2 separate regions of the Homo sapiens genome follow, and region 1 is reported to be linked to region 2. The links are microRNA targets in miRTarBase. Many come from high-throughput screens and were not tested one by one. Region 2 holds a microRNA gene; the other region holds the end of a gene's coding sequence.
The links. The annotated mature microRNA hsa-miR-32-5p reads UAUUGCACAUUACUAAGUUGCA and lies in region 2 at 3,076-3,097, shown strand. An mRNA with a match to its seed (bases 2 to 7 or 8) in the 3' UTR can be bound and repressed. Matches are read on the target gene's strand: a 7mer-m8 pairs with bases 2 to 8, a 7mer-A1 pairs with bases 2 to 7 and ends in A, and an 8mer does both.

Region 1: the mRNA of ZNF695 is a reported target of hsa-miR-32-5p. The part of its 3' UTR that is shown has no 7-base or 8-base seed match.

What each region holds. Positions count from the first base shown.
Region 1 is chr1:246,982,874-246,987,198 of GRCh38, reverse strand. It overlaps ZNF695 (zinc finger protein 695), which reads left to right. Exons shown (of 4, transcript NM_020394.5): 4 at 1-1,876. The coding sequence ends at 232. The region is part of intron 4 of ZNF670-ZNF695 (ZNF670-ZNF695 readthrough (NMD candidate)); the gene reads left to right. Among named protein-coding and RNA genes, the nearest start is that of ZNF695, 23 kb to the left of the region's middle.
Region 2 is chr9:109,044,967-109,049,368 of GRCh38, reverse strand. It overlaps MIR32 (microRNA 32), which reads left to right and starts at 3,071; the gene lies at 3,071-3,140. All of the region lies in intron 14 of TMEM245 (transmembrane protein 245), which reads left to right.

The sequences.
Region 1 (4,325 bases), not on the chromosome of region 2:
TGAATGTGGCAAAGCTTTTAACTGGTTTTCATATCTTACTAATCATAAGAGAATTCATACTGGAGAGAAACCCTACAAATGTGAAGAATGTGGCAAAGCCTTTGGCCAGAGCTCACACCTTTCTAAACATAAGACAATTCATACCAGAGAGAAACCATACAAGTGTGAGGAATGTGGCAAAGCCTTTAACCACTCTGCACAACTTGCTGTACATGAGAAAACTCATACCTGAGAAAAACCCTACAATTCTAAACAATATGGCATAGTCTTTAATACCTATTCACAACTTCACAGCAGAATATTTTTACTGAATAAGAGTGTTACAAATGTAATGACTGTCAAAAGGCCATTTACAGTCTATGAGCCTTTGAGTGCACTAAAATGTTTAGGCTACGAACAATACAAATAGACCGGTTCAACACCTCCACTTATATCACAGCTCTTACTGTACACAGAAGAATTTATACTGGAGGGAAACCCTCCAGTTGCTCAAACTGTATTCAATTTCAAAGACTTTGTATTGGAGAGAAACCCTACAAATGTAATAAATGCAGAAACAACATTTGTTCAAAAAATATACCTCAGAAAACACCAGAGTGTTCACACTAAAAACTGTTTTACAGATGCAGTAAATGTGAAAAAATGTCTAATCAAAAATTACATCAAAACACATCCAAGAATTCATAGTAAAAAGCACTAAGTCACTGACACTTTCAGACATTACTGTAAATCTGAGTGTTGGTTATAGAGAATAATTCAAAGTTAAGTTAAAGTAAGTAGGAGATTCACCTTTTGGGGAAGTTATAATTACATTTCAAGTATACCTTTTGGTGCCAGGCACGGTGGCTCTTTCCTATAGTTGCTGCACTTTTGGATGCCGAGGTCGGGGGATTGCTTGAGCCCAGGAGTTTGGGACCAGGCTGGGCAACATGGCAAAACCTCATCTCTACAAAAAGTAAAATAAAAGCCAGGCTTGGTGGCACATGCCTGTTGTCCCAGCTACTTGGAAGGCTCAGGTGGGAGGATTGCTTGAGCCTGGAGGTTGAGGATGCAGTGAGCTGCTATCTGGCAACTTCACTCCTGCCTGGGCAACAGAGCAAGACCCTTTCTCAATAATAATAATAACAACATAATAATAAAGTATACTCGGTGCACTGAAAGAGTTTTAGCTTTTTTGAAAATCACATATTTATGTAATTCAAGTCTTAAATCACTTGATACCATGCCTTCATTTCTAGTGTTTATGTGAAGGCATGAGGCCTACTGTTGCTACATGAAAGCTGTGAGAGTTTCTTCTATATTCGGGTGGGTGTTGTTCATATCCTTTTCTTTGGAAGATTATGGACATTGCATTGTAAGCTTCCTGAAGAAATTTAACTGGAGAGGCTCTTTGTACTTGTCTTATAATAGGGTTGTAAGTGATTCATGAGATAGGTCTTCAGAGTACTATTCTGCATTATATTTAAGAAAGAAACATTTGAGTTTTACAAGTCAGTTGTTTTTCCTATTGCACATTAAGGTAATAAAATTCAGTGGATTTTGAAATGCTCTTTTTAGACTGTTTGAACTTAATTTGTTTTAATAAGACATTGTTTTAATGTCTTTGGACCGTTGTACATTAAGTGATGCGTATCCTACCACCAACGTTAACCTATCTCACCTTAGTTACGGTTGTAGGTAACAAATGGTAACAATACAATAGTGGGTAACATGGTGGAATAGTATCTCTAATGATCCCTTCTCCCAGTGGCATTAAACTTCAAATAATTTGAAAAATATTGTTCCCACACGTTACACCTTCATTCTGTTTGCTCTTTTTGTAATGACAGTGTCATTATTAAGGCTATAATAAAGCCTATATAGGATTATAATCAAAGACCGTGTATTTCTGAATCTTGAAGGACTATTCACAAAATTTTATTTACATTTTCCTTTTAACATGTGGCTTTTCTGGCCTGCAAAACATATACATGCTTTTAGTTTTGGTTTACATGGAGATAAATACATAAATATACTACTCTAAGGATAAATGTTAGGTGTAAGACAGTTATGAAGCAAGTAATGTGTTTGAAGTAAGTGCATACCTGTTTTCAGAATAAGAGAAAAATGTTGGAACCAAACATAATTTCAAAAGTATGGATAATTTATTAGCAAACTAGAAACCTCAAAAATGTCGAAGGCAAATCTGTTTTCTCTGCTTTGTATTGAAGGCATTTCTCTAAAATCTTATTTTGCAGAATTTCCACATGAAATTCCTGTTTTTACTTTTATGTTGCTCATGCTAGAGCTAACGTATAATTTTCTTGTTCCAAAATTCATGAAGAATTTCTTATGTGATCTTCTCAGGGATTATAATAATGATTTTATGAAACTTATTGGTGCTTAAAAAATAATCTGAAGATGTGAATAATTCCACAGTGAGTGTATTAATTTTCATTGTACTTAATTAGTACATTTCCATTTTTCCATTATTAGAGAACACTATTCGAGCCAACTTTTTTTGTTATTGTTTCTTTCACTTAATTGAGTAATTGAGTTTATTGACTCTATTGGGCAATTTGTTCAGATAAACACTTTGGAGGCTTTATAAGTCATAGGGCTATTTGGCATATAAATGAAGTGAAGAAACATAACGCAGTGCCAGATGTGTAGTAGATGTTCCATAATTAACAATAAATATTCTTTTTGGAGTGAAGTTGTGGCTCCAGGTAAGAGATTGGAAATATCCAGGATGAAGACCTGGCATTGATTCTGCATGCAGAGAAAGGACTTCTCTACCCAGGCTGCACAACTGACTCTCTCTGAAGAGGAATTCTGCTTTTATTTCCAAATTATCTCTGTTTTTTTGTGGTCTCTTTTTCTTTCTTCTCAACTACTTATGCATTCCAGCTCTCCTCCTTTTTTTTTTTTTTTTTTTTAAAACCTGTGTTATGGCTACACTTTCTCACTGTTCTCCACACAATATGTCATCTTATATAGTACTTTGTACATTCTAACAGGAAATTTGGACTTTCTCTTTTTCTTCTTCTTTTTTTTTTTTTTTTTTGGAGACATGGTCTCACTGTGTCACCCAGGCTGGTGTGCACTGGTGTAATCTCGGATTACTGCAACCTCTGCCTCCCAGACTCAAGCAATCATCCCACCTCAGCCCCCTGAGTAGCTGGGACTAGAAGTGTGCACCCCCACTCCTAGCTAATTCTTTTTTTAGTAGAGATGAGGTTTTACCATGTTCCCAGGCTTGTCTTGAACTCCTAAGCTCTAGTGACTGACCTGCCTTGGCCTCCTAAAGTGCTGGGATTATAGGTATGAGCCACACCTGGCCTGGAAATTTGAAATTTTTTAATGTGATGATAGATTTTTGTTTGTTTGTTTGTTTGTTTTGAGACTGAGTCTCACCCTGTCACCCAGGCTGGAGTGCAGTGGTGCAATCTTGGCTCACTGCAACTTCCACCTCCTGGGTTCAATCAAGTCTCTTGCCTTGGTCTGCCAAGTAGCTGCGATTACAGGCACGCACCACCATGCCTGGCTAATTTTTGTATTTTTAGTAAAGATGGGGTTCATCATGTTGGCCAGGCTGGTCTTGAACTCCTCACCTGAGGTGATCCACCCACCTCAGCCTCTCAAAGTGCTGGGATTACAGGCATGAGCCACTGCGCCCAGCCAATAGATTGACTTTTAACTGGAGAGTTTGAGGTCATTTATATTTTACAAAACTGACATTGTGATCATAGCTTACTGCAGTCTCAACCTCCCAGGCTCAGGTTATCCTCTCATCTTAGCTCCCTGGGTAGCTAGGAGTACAGCCACATGCCACCATGCCCAGCTAATTTTTTTTATTGTTTTGTAGAAATGAAGTCTCACTGTGTTTTCCAGGCTGATCTCAAGCTCCTGCGCTCAAGCAACCCCCCTACCTCAGCCTCCCAAAGTGCTGGCATTACAGGCATGTGCCACCATGTGGCCCAGCTACAAGCAACACATTCTTTTTTTTTTTTTTTGAGACAGAGTCTCGCTCTGTCACCCAGGCTGGAGTGTAGTGGCGCGATCACGGCTCACTGCAAGCTCTGCCTCCCAGGTTCATGCCATTCTTCTGCCTCAGCCTCCCAAGTAGCTGAGACTGCAGGCGCCCGCCACCACACCCGGCTAATTTTTTTGTATTTTCAGTAGAGACAGGGTTTCACCGTGTTCCCCAGGATGGTCTCAATCTCCTGACCTCATGATCCACCTGCCTCGGCCTCCCAAAGTGCTGGGATTACAGGCGTGAGCCACCGTGCCCGGCCAGAAAATTGTTTTTAAAATAAAAGACACCATTGATAATTGCATCAAAT
Region 2 (4,402 bases):
GGTGGTGTGAAAGCTGTAGTCCCAGCTACTTAAGAGGTTGAGGTGGTAGGATTGCTTGAGCCTGGAAGATGGAGGCTGCAGTGAACTTGGTCACACCACTGCACTGCAGCCTAGGCAACAGAGTAAGACCCTATCTCAAAAACAAAACAAAATTTAACAATTCAAAGCAGTTTTGATAACCTTCTCTCAAACCTGAGATTTACAAAGATGTAATGGTCTATCTCCATCAGCTTTCCATCAGCAGGATCTTAGACTAGCTGTTAGCATCATGTCACTTGCTTAAGAGAACCCCCGCTTCCACCACCCCCATCTCCAACTTCTTTCAGAACCCTCTGCTGTCAGGAGTTTTAGCTTTGCTCCAGAAGGAGAGTAGGTGGACTTCCTGTTTCTCCTCTGTCCTACAGCCAAGCTGTGCCCTCTGCAAGGAGTAGGTTGGATACTGGAAATGCAGAATCGTTGTTTATCTCTTAAGTTATAGGCTCTGTATGCACTGGAGGTTCTGGCCAGAAACTTTTTCGTTATGACTTCTGGCATCCATGTATTTACAGGCTTTGTTTCTGAATGAACTTCTTCAACTTTTCCTCTGTATAAGCTCTTTCCAGGTCGTTGGCTCTTGGCTTCCTTTATCTTTTCCTCTTCATCATTTCTGGTAGGGAGGACCCTTTTGCAGAGCAGGCCTGTCTCAGCCCCTCCTGTAATCCCTGTCATCATTCCTCATTAACAAGACTCAACTACATTTTTACTTCTTATGAATACGTCTCAAATTAAACCCTCCTATTGTCCATTAGAGCTCCTTTTTCTAATACGTTGTTAACCAGGTGGTCTTAAGCATCTCTTGAATAGCAAATCTTTGGCTGGCATTTCTGTCTCCACATACTTTTAATAAATATTGTCTGGAACTAGTCTTCCACAGAAATCTTGATTTTTTTTTTTTTCTCTGATAATTGCACCTGATTGATCTTGGTATATTTTTTCACTGTGTTCATGTAATAGCTAGGGAGAATCCCATTTGATTGTTAGAAAACCTTCAGTTACATTCAAACAGGATGCATGCTCCTAAAATACAATGTCTGTAGAACTTTTGCTAAGTTCTCTCCCCTTTTCCTACTAGCAAGGCCTGGGTAAGATCTTCACCAATACCTTGTTTCCGCGATTGGCTGTCAAGTGGGATTAAAAAAAATGCTCTTAACACCTGTATAGTGTCCTCAGGTATCCACACAGGGGCCATCTATAAAGATTCCAGATTTGGGAGTATATTATCCAGTGTAACAGCAATTGGGGTGAAGCTGTTTCGAAGGAAGTACCAGCTATAGCTTCCCTCCTAAGTCCTATATGACCATTGACTATCATCTTTGCTGAATAAATGAAATGATGAAAATTCTAGCAATAGATAATCTTTTGTTTATCTAGGTGATATCTTTCTGACTCAGAAAAGCTTTTGCAAATGCTCTACCAAAAAGGAAGGCTAATCTTTTATCTTCCCAGTGGGGTAAAGCTATTTATTGTAGCAGCCATATCAAAGGCTGGTAGGAATTCTCCAGTCAGTGTGGCTTAAGCCAAGCTTTGCAGAAAAATATCTACCTTGTTCATAAAGAACTTCAAGAAAGATGATGCTTCCATTTTCCTCAAGTAATCTTCATTGTTACTGACTCTTATTCTTAGAAAAATGTTTCTATTTTCACATCACAGCTTTTGAATTTTCTCTTGTTCTGCTTTCTTACAGCAGACCATCCTCTAAATGTCTGTCACCTTTTTTCATACCAAATATGCCACCTTTTTTGTTTTAAACTTAATTCCTAGCTGTTGTGTTTGCCAGTCAGTGGTAAGTAAAGCTGTTAGTCACACCTAGGTTCAGCTGATTGAAAGCACATACTCTGTTACACCATGATGCCTTCTTTCAAGAGGAGCTGGTTAGGGAAGATCATGACTTATATTTGTGGACATAAGAGGGTGGCATTTAGAAATTCAGGTCTTTGGCTCAGGAGAGAATTTGAGATTACAAAGAGTGCTGTCATCTACAGCGATATGAGGAAATCAGTCTTTTACAAATTAGATTCGACTTCCCTTCTTGGGAGTGCATACACTAATTATGTATTATAACAGTAGCTTATGTCTTGGTTCCATAGTATACTGGCATTTAAAAACCATTTGTTTTATTATCACCTTATTTTAAATACAGAAAAAATTTTAACAACCTTTGGTACCAGAACTATAATCTAATGGTTCTCAGAATTGATAGATTTTTATGAGTCTGATAAATATGGTACAGACTAAAGAATGGGTTATGGCCTGAGACATTTTTCTAACCAAAGCTATATCAAGTTATGTAATTTTAAGGCTATAATTCAAGGTGTTTTTTTTGCAGTTTAAGTTCCTAGGGCTGTTTCTTTACTGGCTCAAATTCAAGACTTAAAATGTACAGATTTTACAGAGATTCCTCTGAAGAGCTTTCTCCTGTGGAGAAGATGGTAGTGAGTTCTCTTTCTAAGAGCTCCTGTTGGATTTTTCATCCTGAAGGTTTGTGTTGAAGAGGCAATATGTTTCTTCATGGAAAAAGATTTTGAGGGAAAAATAAGTGGTTATTTATAATTTATGAATGACTATGAAAATATTGTAATGTCCTCAAAGTGCAGTTTAGCCTACAAATATCAGTGATACCAACTTTTATAAGCATCAGTCATTAATCATCATCTATGTTGCAGCTAAGTGGAAATCATTACATTCATTTATATGATCTGTGAATAAGTCAAAAATGGAATTGAAATTGGGGGTTAATTGCATGACCAGACAGTGATAGTGTCTGTTCGTGAAGCTTTGCCTTCTGAAGTATGTGGTTTCTTTATGATCACTATCTCATTGAAGTTTTGAACCTTACTCATTATTTTGATTCTGAATAAGTATTCTTCTCAGTTGAATACATTTGCAATTGGGTTTTCATTTCATGAAGTTTTGAGTCAGTGGCATGCATCCTTTATCCCCAGACCATTTTCCTCTCTTCAGCAGCATGTTGTCTCCTGAATGTATACATCACACCCTTCTTCCCTGATGCTCCCATTCTGCTTGCTCTGGTGGAGATATTGCACATTACTAAGTTGCATGTTGTCACGGCCTCAATGCAATTTAGTGTGTGTGATATTTTCACATGAGTGCATGCACACGGGTATGGCTCTTGCTTGCTGGGATTACAGCTTTTCAGTGCCAGTGGGTGGGTGTCCTGATGAATTAGATAAGACAGTGTGTATGCCATGCGATTCTCATTTGGAAAGTGAACATGCTTCCCATCGGTACCTTCCAATTTTGGAGAATTAAAAGTATTTGGATTAAAAAAAGTCAGCAATGATCATTTAGTAAATCAGTGTTTCCATTTTTTACTTTGAGCAAATGAAATATTTATTACAAATTCTCATTGATTTAAGAGTATAAACAATATTTAAATGTATAAGGAAGAATGTAAAGCTGTAAGAAAATGTATTTTCATTTATTTGAAGAAATCTCTCCCAACACTGGAATAGAGAAGCAGAAATCTCTTATGCATATTTGGGGAAATTAAATTAACTGGAGTTCTTAAATAATAATCAAGACAGTAAAGGTATGCTTAACCTACCTGATGAAAGATTCATCTCATAAACTTAAGTTTCCAAGGTAAATTACCTTAAAAATGTGTCTTTTACTTTCTCATTGTGATGCTTCGAAAACTGCTAAATTCATTTTAGTGGGCTAATAATGGAACTAGTTTTGAAATACACGTTTACTATTTGCCTATGTAATTGAAACAACCCCTTGTTATTTTTTTAGTTAGCATTAGAGTAAGCATCCACAATCACTAGGCATTGTCAAGGACACAAAACCATGTATTACTGTATGAAAATATTGAATTAATATTTACTACTACCATAGCCTCCAGATGATCTATTGTGATGCTGTCATTGTATGTTTCTGTGTTTCACCACTGTTTTGGAGGGTGAGAATGGAAGAATTCCACGTAAGCAGCTCATCCCCTGTGCCCTTCAGCAGCTCGGCCGTTCCCCTCATGCTGGAAATCTAATGTCAGCCAGGTTGCTATATGACACCCTGTGGAGCTGGGTTTCCAGGGCAGATTAATCAAGAAAGGGAAGATGTGACCTCTCAAGGGAGGTTGGGGCTGGGAAGGGGTGGGTAGAGAGAGATTTGTTAAAGGATACAAAAATTACTTAGAAGGCATAAGTTCTAATGTTCTACAGCACTGTAGAATGACTGTAGTTCAACAATAAATTATATCATTTCAAGTAGCTAGAAGGAAGATACAGAATGCTCCCAACAAAAGAAATGAGGCCAGGTACGGTGGCTCACGCCTCAAATCCCAGCACTTTGGGAGGCCAAGGCGGGCAGATCACCTGAGGTCAGGAGTTCAAGACCAGCCTGG